2 linked regions of the Homo sapiens genome follow. The protein of the gene in region 2 purifies or fractionates together with the protein of the main gene of each other region. This does not show direct contact. Each region holds a gene or a part of one and is shown on either strand. Other genes may lie near its edges.

Evidence for each region.
Region 1: the proteins of PPIP5K2 (region 2) and NUP88 purify together in Homo sapiens (affinity purification with mass spectrometry; 2 studies listed by BioGRID). This does not show direct contact.

What each region holds. Positions count from the first base shown.
Region 1 is NC_000017.11:5,409,347-5,416,687, forward strand, and holds part of NUP88 (nuclear pore complex protein Nup88), read right to left. Parts: intron 7,337-7,341; coding exon 7,167-7,336; intron 4,789-7,166; coding exon 4,663-4,788; intron 1,444-4,662; coding exon 1,357-1,443; intron 1-1,356. UniProt on the Homo sapiens protein: Component of nuclear pore complex.
Region 2 is NC_000005.10:103,123,100-103,130,440, reverse strand, and holds part of PPIP5K2 (inositol hexakisphosphate and diphosphoinositol-pentakisphosphate kinase 2), read right to left. Parts: intron 1,136-7,341; 5' UTR 852-1,135; coding exon 738-851; intron 1-737. UniProt on the Homo sapiens protein: Bifunctional inositol kinase that acts in concert with the IP6K kinases IP6K1, IP6K2 and IP6K3 to synthesize the diphosphate group-containing inositol pyrophosphates diphosphoinositol pentakisphosphate, PP-InsP5, and bis-diphosphoinositol tetrakisphosphate, (PP)2-InsP4.

The sequences.
Region 1 (7,341 bases), on a different chromosome or scaffold from region 2:
CTGGGCGACAAGAGCGAAACTCCGTCTCAAAAAAAAAAAAAAAAAAAAAATTCTCATGAAATTAAGTGAAAAAAGCTGGCCATAAAATTATTTGGTTCTACTCTCATCTTAAATAGTTTAAATACACAGATATACAAATAGCAAAAATTTATTATATACACACACATAAATGCAAAAAGGAAACAGGAAAACACATGAAAACATCAACAGTTGTCTCTGAGCAGCAGGATCCGTAAGTTCTACAAATACTCGCAAAGCACCTACTCTGTGCCAGGTACTTTTCTAGGGTCTGGGAATATGTCAGTGAATTAAACAAATGTCCTGCCCTCTAGAGAGAGAAATACCACAAAAAGAGAAGAAATAAAGATGGAACATAAACTCAGAAAATATCATGAAAAATAAAGTAGGGTAAGAGGGTATTGATGGAGGTGCTACTTTAGACTACTTGGTATAGGAAAGACTCTGATAAGATATTTGAGCAAAGATCTGAAGGAAGTAAGAGAGCAAGTCTGTGGTTAACTAGGGAAGGAGCAGTTGAGGTGGAGAGCAAATGCTCTAAGGTAGAAGTGCTTAATGTCTGTGGAATGGCAAGGAGGCCAAGGTGCCTGGAGCCCAGAGAGCCAGGGCACAGAGGGAGGAATGAAGCTGGAAAGGCAATCAGGTGGCATACCTGTGGACCCTTTATAGGTAAAGACTCTGGGAAATCAATGGGGTATGGAGAGCAGGGAAGTAGAATGATCTGATTAAACTGATCTGATTAAACTTAGATTAAAGTAGAATGATGTGATTAAACTTTGGGTGCTGTATTGAAACAGGCTATAGCTATAGGAGATTACAAAGATTTTCATTTTCTTCCTAATACTTTGATCTATTTTTCTCAATTTTCTACAGCAAATATACATTACATGTATATCAAGAAGGCAAATCATAAAACCATGCTGTTTTTATATTTAAAATTTACTGTAGTTATTCAGGAAGATTCTAGTTCAATACAAAGTTAACAAATATGGTTAAAATGAAATCACAATTTCATATAGTTGAGAGAGCAAACATCAATGCAAGATATTATCTTAGTTTCTTTATCACATAGAAAGGTGATAAAGAAATGAATGGTGGCTCAGGCCTGTAATTCCAGCACTTTGGGGAGGCTGAGACGAGCAGGATCACTTGAGCCTAGGAGTTCCAGACCAGCCTGGCCAACACGACGAATCCCTGTTCTACTAAAAATACACTTACTTCTCACATTACCAAAAGCATGCTAGTCACCTCTGAAAAACCTTGCAACCTGTTAAAATTGCATTTATAATCCCAATAAGCTAATTAAAAAACCATTTCAAGACTCAAATAAAAACTTACCCTTTATTGAGTACTAGACTTTCCTCTTCGGCTTCTGAAAGTATTATCACGTTAGTGGGTGTCTGCGGCTCACGTAGTGAGTAAATTCTAGCAACCAAAAGAGAAGAAAACCAGCACTTAAAATTCTGTTTTCATTTCCCAAAACTGCACTTTCCTCTCCATCTAGTCAGTTCTTGAGAATTTTCTAACACTTATCACAACTATTTCTTTGCAAAAATCTTGCTGTTGCAAAGTAGTCTAGTTCATTTATTCTTTAACTACATAAGGGAGTTTCATTGGGGCCTGAAGAAATGTTCTCTATCCTTACCAATACCCTTTAACAGCCTATTCCATAACATCGCACCTCTGTCACTTCCGTCCTGAGCCCTTAGCTATACTCGCCTTGTCCAGTCATCTCACTATTGCCCCTAAGCTTGCCAGTTTTCCTTCAACTACACACATCTATCTCTGCCTATTGGACACCAAATCCCACCAGAGAAAGAACTGTATCTTATTCTTTATATGCCAACTGGCTGACAGAGTGAGTGATATTTAGCCTGCAAATCTACTTATGTGTTTGTTATATAAAAACCCAATATTGGCCAAGCACGGTGGCTCACACCTGTAATCCTAGCACTTTGGGAGGCCGAGGTGAGCAGATCACTTGAGGTCAGGAGTTCGTGACCAGCCTGGCCAACATGATGAAACCCCGTCTCTACTAAAAATACAAAAATTATTTGGGTGTGGTGGCACACACCTGTAATCCCAGCTACTCGGGAGGCTGAGGCAGGAGAATCACTTGAACCTGGGAGGTGGAGGTTGCGGTGAGCTGGAGGCTGGAGTGAGCCAAGATCACGCCACTGCACTCCAGCCTGGGCGACAGAGCGAGACTCCATTTCAAAAAAAAAAAAAAAAACCAAACAAACAAACCCAGTATCGTATCATCTCTATTTTCAAGGGAAAGTATAATACTGAATTTTTTTAACCAAAATTATTTTAATTTAAAGTAACCTACATTTCACAGCATATAAGGCTATTGTGAAAAAGGGAATTTTCAAAAGGCCAGTAATGTCATTTTAGAAATCCAGTGTCCCTTATAATCACTTATTTTGTCTGACGCCACTAAGAATTTTTTAACTTGGTTTCTTCCAATATCAATAAAATGCCACATTAAGTATTTAATAAATTTTTAATGATAACTTGATCCATTTGAATACACATTTATTACAGTCTTCCTAGGTTCCTACAAGCGTTACTAACTTCAAAATACACATAAATACTAGGCAATAATGTTGTACTGGGGAACAGTGAAAGAAAAAGAAGGTGCAACAGGGCATTCGGTGAAAATTTCCTTTTGCTCTGAAACTGCCCAAAATCTCCAAAGCTTAGGAAAACAGAAGTGTTAAATACCACATATTTTAAAAAAGAACCTTCAATATTTGGGGCCAGATACTTCCTTTGGGGCTTAAGAACTGTACCTATGCTATCTTCCCACCATCTCCTTTTCCATCATAGCATATAAAAGGAAGACTAAGAAGAGAGGATGTCAAAGATTCCTTAGGAGTACAGTATAATGTTTGTAATGGGAAGATTTTCCCTCTCCTCTTTCTCTGCCCTGAACTCTAAAGCCAAATGGGTGGGCAGGGAAGGCTCTAGGAAACAGCCAGATGTGGAGGTACCTGTAATAAGGGAGACTGGTGCATTTCCTAGCTGAATGCCCCTTAGTCACTTAGTAGCTGTCTCAGTTATAAGATCGAAAAAACATAGCAATACACACGTATCACGTTCAGTACTATCTACAGTTTCAGGCATTCACTGGGGGGTCTTGGAACACACACCCTGCAGATAAAGTATACTGTACCCCATCTTGAGAGAAGATTCAGGGCATAGAGAACTGACAGGAGCCAATGGGAGCCAGAGCTCCTCAGTGATGGGGGGAGCTGGAAGTTCAACACTGCCCTCCAACACCACCCCACCCCCCCACATACACACACACAAACACACCATCTATGCAGAGACTACCACATCAACAGAGTTCACTAGTGACAGATGGAACGAGATTCAAACAAGATCAGGCATACTTCCCCATCACTCACAGGCTACCAGTTCGGTAAGATCTCTACCTCACCTGTCCCACTCCCCTACCCCACACTGAAGGAGTTAGATTTGGAGGAAGGAGGGGGCAGCCCATTCCTTACACTTCACCCTATGTTCCAAAGTGCTGGGATAACAGGAAGAGTGAAAGAGCAGACCGCACACTCTCCAATCACTTCTGATCCCACAAAACACAGGTCTGACCTACAAAAGGGCCAGGACATAGTTGTGAAAGATTTGAGATCAAATAGCTTTCGACATTCTTATTTTCTTTAGACAGGGTTTTACTCTGTCACCCAGGCTGCAATCTTCCTACCTCAGTCTCCTGAGTAGCTGGGACTACCGGCACATGCCATTATGCCCAGCTAATTTTTTTTGCAGAGACAGGATCTCACTGTATTGCCCACATTGGTCTCGAACTCAGGGGCTCAAATGATCCTCCCACCTCGGCCTCCCAAAGTGCTGGGATTACAGGTGTGAGCCACTGCAACCAGCCAAGATGAGTTTTAAACTGGACACACTGTTTTCATAACTAGAAGTAACGAGAAAGCTATGGGGATCTGTATAAGACATCATTAAGGGGTGAGTCATTCAGCAGTGAAGGAAGATTTAGTAGAGCACAGTTAAAAGCAGTGATTACGAAAAATAAAACTGAAGGTATCTGTACCTCTGCTGAGTCCCCCCAATAACTTTTTACATAAGGCCGATCCAGAAAGTTAGCTGATAATAGAGTAGAAATCTACGTAGCATTAGGGCATTTAATCATAGAGTGCAAAGCTTGGAAGGGGCGTTAGAAACTATTGAATCAAACCTGCTCAATTTAAAAGATTGGAAACTGAGCCCCCCAACCCCTAAAAAGCTCAAGATCTCAAAGATAACAGAAAAGGAGGTGGGACAATAATTCAAATCTCTAAATTTACACTTACATTCTCTTTCCTTTATGCTACATTATTACCAAAAGGGTGACAATGATGAAAGAGTTTTGGAAAGATTATTCTAAGGTGTCAGATTAGGAGAGGAGATACCTGGAGGCAGGAAGACTAGTTGAGAAGGAATAGTGGTAAGTTAGAGCAGTTAGGCAATTCTTATGATTGAGAATGGGTTACAACAGCCATCCAATAAAAGCACTGACTCATTCAATGACTCACTTCGTTCTATGTTGAGCTGTTAATTGGCAAACAGAAACAGAGCTTTCCCACTCGCAAGGCTTCAAGAGAGAGAAATAAAATTTACCTGATTACGTTGTCTGATGTTAACAGCACTACGTGGGGATCCAGGATTTCACTTGGATACCATGCAGCATGCTTTAGAGTCAGAGAGGTGGAACTGGTGAAAAATCTCTCCGCAACTGGAGTGGTACTAAAATAAAGATAATAATTTTCCAAAACATTTTGTACAACTTGGATGAAAATCTTCTAAAGGAACTTCTTTTTTTTGCAGATGGAGTTTCTCTCTTGTTGCCCAGGCTGGAGTGTAACGGCACAATCTCGGCTCACTGCAACCTCCGCCTCCCAGGTTCAAGTGATTCTCCTGCCTCAGTCTTTCAAGTAGCTGGGATTACAGGCACCTGCCACCTCGCCCAGCGAACTTTGTATTTTCAGTAGAGAGGGGGTTTCTCCATGTTGGTCAGGCTGGTCTCAAACTCCCGACCTCAGGTGATCTGCCCACCTCGGCCTCGCAAAGTGCTGGGATTACAGGCATGAGCCACCACGCCAGGCCCTGAAGAAATTTCTATTTTAACACTCTTTGATTCTCTTTCCTTCAGATTTATTTCCCTGAAATCATGCTGAGAGGACATTCAAGGCATCTATTCAATCAATATCAAAGAATTGAAATAAAAATATCTTCTAAATTATAGCACACTGGCTGGGCGCAATGGCTCACGCCTATCTTAGCACTTTGGGAGGCCAAGGCAGGTGGATCACCTGAGGTCAGGAGTTTGAGACCAGCCTGGCCAACATGGTAAAACCCCGTCTCCACTAAAAATACAAGAATTAGGCAAGTGTGGTGGCACATGCCTGTAACCCGTTACCCGTGAGGCTGAGGCAGAAGAATCGCTGGAACCCAGGAGGTGGAGGCTGCAGTGAGCTGAGCTTGTGCCACTGCACTCCAGCCCGGGCTGAGGAGGTTGCAGTGAGCTGAGATCACGCCACTGCACTCCAGCTTGGGCTACAGAGCCAGACTCTGTCTCAAAATAAATAAATAATTTATTTATTTTAATAATTTAAATTATTTATTTAAATTTTATTTGTTTATTTATTTGAGATGAAGTCTCACTCTGTGGCCCAAGCTGGAGTGCAGTGGCGTGATCTTTGCTCACTGCAACCTCCGCCTCCTGGATTTAATCAATACTTGTGCCTTAACCTCCTGAGTAGCTGGGACTACAGGCGTGTGCCACCACACCCCACTTATTTTTTGTATTTTAGTAGAAATGAGGTTTCACCATGTTGCCCAGGGTGGTCTCAAGCTCCTGAGCTCAGGTGATCCACCTGCCTCGGCCTCCCAAAGTGCTGGGATTACAGGTGTGAGCCATCGTGCCTGGCTCCAAATTATAGCATATTTCATACGTATATATACATTTTAGGATGGTTTGACTTAGGATTGATACATATTTATACAGTACAAGTGTTTTCAGATATAGTATCTCATTTGATCTTTTTACTAACCCTGTAAGGAAATTACAAGGGCAGATATTATCAATCCTATTTTTAAAATGAGGAAACAGATTTAGAAGGTAAACAGTTTAAGGGGACTCAACTTATAAGTTGCGGAGCTAAAAGCAGTTTCTACCTTATACAGATGATCCCCAACTTTACAATGGGTTTACCAGTACATAAGCCAACATAAACTGAGGAGCTCCTTACGACTTATGATGGGGTTACCCATCATAATGTTGAAAAATCCTACGTTGAACCATCCTAAATCGGGGATCCTCTGCTGTGTTGTCAGCAATAAATCCATTTTCAACTTACACTGGGTTTATCGGGACATAACCCAATCGTAAGTTGAAAAGCATCTGTACTCTTTTCAGTAGATCTTTCAGATTCACTTTTCTGGATTTGTTGAAAAAGAAATTATATAAAAATAGGCCAGGTGCGGTGGCTCACACCTATAACCCCGGCACTTTGGGAGGCTAAGGTGGGTGGATCACTTGAGGTCAGGAGTTCAAGACCAGCTTGGTCAACATGGTGAAACCCCGTCTCTACTAAAAATACAAAAATTAGCTGGGCATGGTAGCGCTTGCCTGTAATCCCAGTTACTCGGGAGGCTGAGGCAGAAGAATCGCTTGAATCCAGGAGGCGGAGCTTGCAGTGAGCCGAGATTGTGCCACTGCACTCCAGCCTGGGTGACAGAGCAAGACTCCATCTCAAAAAAAAAAAAAAAAAAAAAAGTATATATATATATACACACATACACACACACACACACACATAAAATACTTACACTTCTGGCAAACTTCTGGCTGACAGATAACTGGTTTTACAAAATCTTACTTCTACCTAATCGAAAGAATGGCCTAGCCTCAAATGAGACAGCAACGTGGTACTTCAGGCAGAATAAAGTACAATCAATTACACATATACTATGAACATTGATAACACAGAAGCCAGTCTGCAGACCACGAGGAGTGTTTTAATGTTTTAAGAGTAGTATACTAAACATGCTTAAGAACCACTAGTCTTGAACAATTTTCTGTATATATAATAAATTATACAGATAAATAGTATACAACTTACCTACAATTCACTGTTGATTTTCCACCTTCAAATTCAGAATTCTTCCCCCATCTTTTAGGTAATTCTAATACCATAAGTCCTTTTATTCCTATAAGTGCTACATGATGTTGTGTTGGGCTTAACAAGACTTGATAGATTTCAAACAGGGGTGGATTTATGCAAAGCAATCTCTGAA
Region 2 (7,341 bases):
TCTTTCCAATTAGAAATATATGAAAAACAAACACATACTGTAGGTCTGTATTTTAAATCAGTATTCACAGTAAAGCAATCTCTACTTAAAAAATTAAATGATGAGTAAGAAAAATATTGGTCTAATGTAACTATAGCAAAATGAGCATAATAAATATATATCATTCCTAAGATCCAGTATGGATAGAACATGATATCAGAAAGAGAACAAGTTTTAGACACACACACAAACACATAGATACTTTTTAGGTAGCCTACCCTTCTAGCCACTCAGTTTTCAGACTTCTGAAGTTAATAAATATGAGTATCTTCGGTTCAACCAGAACTCACATTGGTAACAGAAGCTTAATGAATCTATTTAAGTAATCCTTCTTCTTTTGTAACTTTAAAATTATTTCCTTCCACCTATCTTCAATTATTTGTTATGTATTTCTACATACAAGAAAGCTTTTGGATTTATGGCCCAGATTACTGTTTCTCTTTGCCACTTTTGTTACCTAACACTGAGTTACACTATGCGTATCACTGAAAGAAACTAAAATAGGCATCATTAAACAACATAAAGGTTTGACCCATAACTGTATTTATTGATTCATCATAGATTCAACAACATCAGTCATGAAACAAAATATACTTTTTCAGTTCAAAAATTTTCCAACAAAAAAAGACTAACAGTGATTAGTAAAAAGCCTATACTGTATTGGTCTTCTCTCGCCAAAGGAAAAACAAACAACTTACAGAATCATCTTCCTCCTCATCGTCTTCATCTGCATGGTGGAAGAAATGTCGATAATTTCCAGGATTTATTTCTGTATCTTCTGGTCCAACGAAGAATCTGGGGGCTTCACTCATTTTTATTTTATTTGATGTAGATATAATTGAAATGATTTATATTAAAACTGCCTCTAAGTAAATAGTATCAGAAGAAAGCATTCTCCATATATTAGCTGACGCACAGGTCTGTGACAGCTTGTTTCTGCTTATACAATCACTTGATATTATGATGACTGTTGGCAAATACTCTTTTGTTCTTAGATATCATTGCTTCATTGTTGATATCAAAGTTGTTGTTGCAATTCAAAATACAAAGACAGTGAAGTTACTGCTTTCTTGAGTTGATACAGCAATCTTCTTACCTAAAATGCAATGAAAAAACTAATTTTGGAGAGTGCACTCCAAAAACATTCATGTAAAAAATAATTTTTAATGACACTTGTAAAATCAGCCCAATAACTTGATGTATATTGTCAAAATGAAAATACATTTTCTCCCATAAGAAAATTACTTATAATAAAAGCAAAAAAATTAAGAAACTAAAACTGATCTTCAGTAATATACATCTTAGCAATTTGACAAACATATGAATTAACAAAAAGACTACACATTAAATTCCTCATCCCAAAATAGCTAAACTAATTAAGAGAAAATTACTCAAATTATAACAAAATTATATTAAAGCTAAATCTCTTAGCACATAGTTATGAAATATCTGAATGGAATGGAAAAGAACAGACAAATGGAATGCAGCTTTAAAAGCCACTGACAAATATTAATCTGAAATTACATTAAGTCAATTTGTAAAAGTTGTCTGTAAACAGTTTTTTTAGGGAACATAACAATTCTATATTCTGGTCTCATACATAAATGAACAAAAAAAGATTAGAGTCAGAACAAGATTTCATTTAACAGCAGCTCTTAAACATGTAGAAGTCAAAAACTCTTTAACAAATCTAATAAAATCTATGGATCTCCTCCCCAGAAAAAAAAAGTACATGTGCACTAAATTCTGCAAGAATTTTATGTGATTCACTGACATTCAAACTCTTCCACATAACCAGGCGTCCATGAGTATCAGTTAAAGAACTATCATAGCTGGACTCATTGGCTCACACCTGTAATCCCAGCTACTTGGGAGGCTAAGGTGGGAGGATGGCTTGAGCCAAATAGTTTGAGGCTGCAGGGAGCTATGACTGTGCCTCTACACTCCAGCTTGAATAACAGAGAAAGACTCTGTCTCAAATAAATAAATAAATAAATAAATAAATAAATAAATAAGAACTATAAGAGCAGTAGCATCTCAAAATATTCCTTACCATAGTTGTTTACATGTACTTGCTTCCTGGTCATATTAAAATTAATTATATACCAAGATGAAACTACATAACAAATGCTTCATTTGATTACTGGTAGTACAATAAATTACTTGATCAAATATTCTTAAAAGTCAAACAATATGCTAGGTAGAATTAAAAGCATAACTCCAAAAGTTCTATTCCTAAAGATCTAATTCCAGTATAACTTGGTGACTCCCCAGTAGACATTAAAATCAATTTGCCCAGTCAGCCTTCACTTTAACCATCTTTAAAATACAGCGTTACATTTAAAATAATTTGTAATTTAAAAATAAAAGCAGAAATAATTTACTTTATAAATCAATGCCTTTTGTTCTATTCCTCTGTACTGTTTAACATGTAAAAATGTTTACTGAAAAAAAAAACAACAACAACAGAAAGTTTCCAGTGGCTGTAAAACTTCATGTTGGTGGATAAGTTGATCTCAGTTCTGTTTCCTATCAAATGGCAAATATCTCTTGGTTTCTTTCAATTTTTTTACTCTTTCCATCTAAAAACAGCTCAAATATTTCGATAATGGAAGGGGAATGTTCTGGAGTCAGGTACATCTGTTTTAATCTGTCAGTGCTTAACTAGTGACTTGTGCTAGTTGCTATTAGTCTATAAAAAAGGGAGTATAGTAACACCCTGTAACCCTGTAAAGACTAAGTGAGATAGCATAAGTGCTTGGCGTATATTAAACACTCAATAAACCATAGTTTCCATGAACACTCCTGTAAACCAAACTCCCTACTGACTCTAACATGTAAATCTAAAAGAATGAATTGTTCATTATTTGTTGAAATGAATATAGTTATCCAACAAACACTATTTACTTATTATAGAAGGCATAGTATTAAGTGCTGGTTATATAAAGTCAAAGTAAACATGGCTCTTTTCCTTAAGGAGCTTTTAGTCTAGTAGGAAGATAGCCAAATAAATTGACATTTTCTGTTTTAGTGTGATAAACCACCAATAAAAAAGATAATAGAAACATGTAATAATGTAATAAATGTCTATCTACTTCAGAATGGCAATGATAGGAAATGCCAGGTCCAGTATGTCAATGCAATATATAGGTATGTACTTATATGTATACATACATGAATATGAGTGTGTATACACACATTTTATGACATTATTTTAAAACTGTATTGTACTTCCTTCTAGTTAAAGTGTTCTAACAAAGTGAGAACAATACTGTTTTAGAGGTAAAGCTGAAAATTAATTTTTTTTAGCCTTTTAGAGTATTCATTGGAAAAAGTCTGGAATACATACAAATAAAATTTAAAGAATCAGTTAATAAGTCCATGACACAATGGCAGAACTAATGGTTGTAGCTGTGCAGACCTATTGGGCTGTGTTTCCTACTATTCTGTGATGGTTAATACTGAGTGTCAACTTGATTGGATTGAAGGATGCAAAGTATTGATCATGGGTGTATCTGTGAGGGTGCTGCCAAAGGAGATAAACATTTGAGTCAGTGTTCCGGGAAAGGCAGACCCACCCTTAATCTGGGTGGGCACCATCTTATCAGCTGCCAGTGCAGCTAGAATATAAGGCAGACAGAAAAAAAAAAAAAAAACGTGAAAAGGCTAGATAGACTAGCTTAGCCTCCCAGCCTGCATCTTTCTCCTGTGCTGGTTGCTTCCTGCTCTTAAACATCAGACTCCCAGTTCTTCAGCTTTGGGACTCGGATTGGCTTCCATGCTCCTCAGCTTGCACATGGCCTATTGTGGGACCTTGTGATCGATCGTGTGACTTAATACTACTTAATAAACTCCCATTTGTAGCTATATCTATCCTATTAGTTCTGTCCCTCTAGAGAACCCTGACTAATACATAGTCTTTTCAATATAATTCTCCCACATTTTTGAAATACTTTACAAAATATGTGTGTAAGTAGAAATCAACTTTCGGGGAAAAAAAAGTATGTATCCAATAGATTTTTTTTTCCCAAGGGTATGAATTAATGACTGGTCTGTCCCCTTTTGTTAACTTATTCAAGTTCTGTTTAAGTCTGTAATGCTGTATGAAGTATATAGATATATGTCCCTCATTTGATTATGACCTTAGGTCTGAAACATGTCTCATTCATTCATTTGGTGAGGGACTAGGTAAATCAACAAATAAATACATGTTAGAAAGACCTCTTTAATAAGGTGACATTTAAATATAAATTTAATTTAAATGAGAAACCAACCATGGGGTTATATGGTGTGAACATTCCAGGTAAGAAACATCAAGTATAAAGCCTCTAAAGCAGAAGTATGCTTGGCATATTTCCCATGTTCATGAAAGAGTAAGGTGGAGCAGAGCAGGCAAGCAAAGGAAAAATGGTAAAAAATCATGTCAGATAAGTAGCTAAGATGCACACAAAGGACTGAGAAGCCATAGTAAGAATTTTCAATTTGTTAAATGTGATTGCACTGCATTTAGGGAAGCTGAGGCAGGCGGATCACTTGAGGCCAGGAGTTCAAGACCAGTCTGGCCAACATGGTGAAACCCCGTCTCTGCTAAAATATAAAAATTAGCCCGGCATGGTGGCATGCGCCTGTAATCCCAGCTACTCAGGAGGCTGGGGCAGGAGAATCACTTGAACCCTGGAGGTGGAGGTTGCAGTAAGCCGGGATTGCACCACTGCACTCCAGCCTGGGCAACAGAGTGAGACTCTGTCTCAAACAAACAAGAAAATAGAAGGAGATGAAATACAGACAAGTTATACAGACAGTTATTTTGAAGAGTTTATAAAAGATGGACAGAGGAATTGGACCTCTAAAGGACATAAAGTGAAGGAAGCCTTTCTTTTTTTTTCTGTTATTCCACTTTAGTATATGAGAGATACTTAGAGATGTCATATAAAAAAAAAAAAACTGAACAGGCTAGTGGTTAAGAGCATGGATTCAGGGGTTAAAATACCTGGGTTTAAAACCTGACTGACTCCAATTAGCTGATCTTGAGCAAGTGAGTTAACTTCTTATGGCCTCAATTTCCTCATCTGTAAATTGTACATAGCTCATAGGTCATTTTAATGATGTTATATGTAAGATAATATACTAAGAGTGCTTGTATCCCAACGTCTAGGCTATACTCCACATCACTTAAATCAAAATGATTGAGAGTAGAGTTCGGGTAATTTTAAGTCTTCCCAGGTAATTCCAATGTGTAGCCAAGTTTGAGAACCAGTTTTTGAAAACAAGTACTATAGGAAATTTCCTATAATAAAAAGGAGATAAAACCGATGAAGCAGAATTTTTGTCTTCTGGTGGTTGGCACATCTCAAGTATCCAATAGATACTCCTCTACAAAACTTGCCTTAACAATTTACAAGACCTTCTCCGAATCATTCGTTTTGACCTTTGGTCACATATAACCTTGTTATTTAACAGCTTGGGTTATGTATATCCCTCCACAACATAAATCTCAAGGGAAGGAACATTTATTAGGCACTGTTACCTAGTAAGTACCTTACTTGTAAATTCAGAGCCTCCCAACATGTTGTCTCACCATAAATGAATTGTAAGTATGCCAAGAAATTAATTGCCTCAGCCTTTAAGGCAGCTGTTATACCCTGGCCAGTTGCTTCCAGTAGCACTCTCTTCAGTTTCCCCAGGATACTGTACAAATACTACCATTTTCTAGGTATGCCTTAATATGAAAAAAGTTGGGAAGAAATTACTTACTACTTTGTGATTTAACAATCTCACAGCCATCCTGGAATTAGAAATATATTCTTCATTTTATAAATGTTTTATGTATGTAGATATGTGTCCATTTTGTCATTATAAATTAAGACTTGAGGTTCAGAAAGTTCAGGTAATTTGATCATCATCACAGAGCCAATAAGGGTTGCAAATGGAAGTCAAACCCAGGTCTGTTTAAACCAAAGGCCATTATACTAAAGAGCAAAAATGAGGACTCCACAGTCCTTATGACAGCATGGCAAATATAAATTCTCAGAAAACTAAAAATATAAAATAAATTCAAATACATTTCTGTCACCTAAGTAGGATATATGTCGTAGTACAAGAGGAGATTTTTTTTTTTTTTTTGAGATGGAGTCTCGCTCTGTCCCCAGGTTGGAGTGCAGTGGCACGATCTCGGCTCACTACAAGCTCCTCCTCCCGGGTTCACACCATTCTCCTGCCTCAGCCTCCCAAGTAGCTGGGACTACAGGCACCCACCACCACACTCAGCTAATTTTTTGTATTTTTAGTAGAGACGGAGTTTCACAGTGTTAGCCAGGATGGTTTCAATCTCCTGACCTCGTGATCCTCCCGCCTCGGCCTCCCAAAGTGCTGGGATTACAGGTGTGAGCCACCGCGCCCGGCCAAGATGAGATTTTATGAGCATCATAAGAGATGCAGGACATTCAAAATGGTTTGTATTATTTCACTTAAAGCGCTGATACTTGAACGAAGTACAGTTTATACATATAGCACTTCCATATTATTTAGCATTTTGATCAATGTTCAGTCATTAATTTCAACATATGCTAACTGTCTGGGCATAAAGATACATACATTATTCAAATATCAGTGTTGAACCTTACTTTATTTTTAGAATTCCTTCTATAGCAGTGGTCCCAAAATGGACTGGTTACATCAGAATTATCTGGTAGACTTGTAAAAACACAAGTTACTGGGCTTATCACAGATTAGGAATTCCTAAACAGTAATTCTTAACTAGAAAAACTGTATTTTTACAAATGGATGAGCAGCCAGGTTTGGGAATCTAACTGTACAAAAGACAAATATCCCTTAAACCTGATTTCTAAATCTGAAATGAGTGTTATGCTACTAAAAATGTCCACACTCAATGCAGTAGTTCTCAAACATTAGCATGCAACAGAATCACCTGTAGGGCTTGTTAATACTAATCTCAAAACTCTGGGGGTGGGGCCCAATATTTTGCCTTTCCAAAAGTTCCAAGGTGATGCTGATGTTGCTCGTCGTCCTGGAATCACACTATGAGAACAATTGCTCTAGACTCAAAACTGGGTTTGAAAACTTTTTCTGCAAGTTGCTCAGCTCTGTGTCCTTAGTCAAGTTATTGAACCTCTCTAGTCATCATCTGTAAAATGGGATTATGAATCTCATATATTGTTTTGACAATTGCAATACAGATGCCACAGCAAATAGCACATATTAAGCACTCAGTAAATGTTAGATGTTTAATATTTTGTTAAATGTTGTTATGACAGTTTTCTAGCAAATTTAATTGGCAAGGAA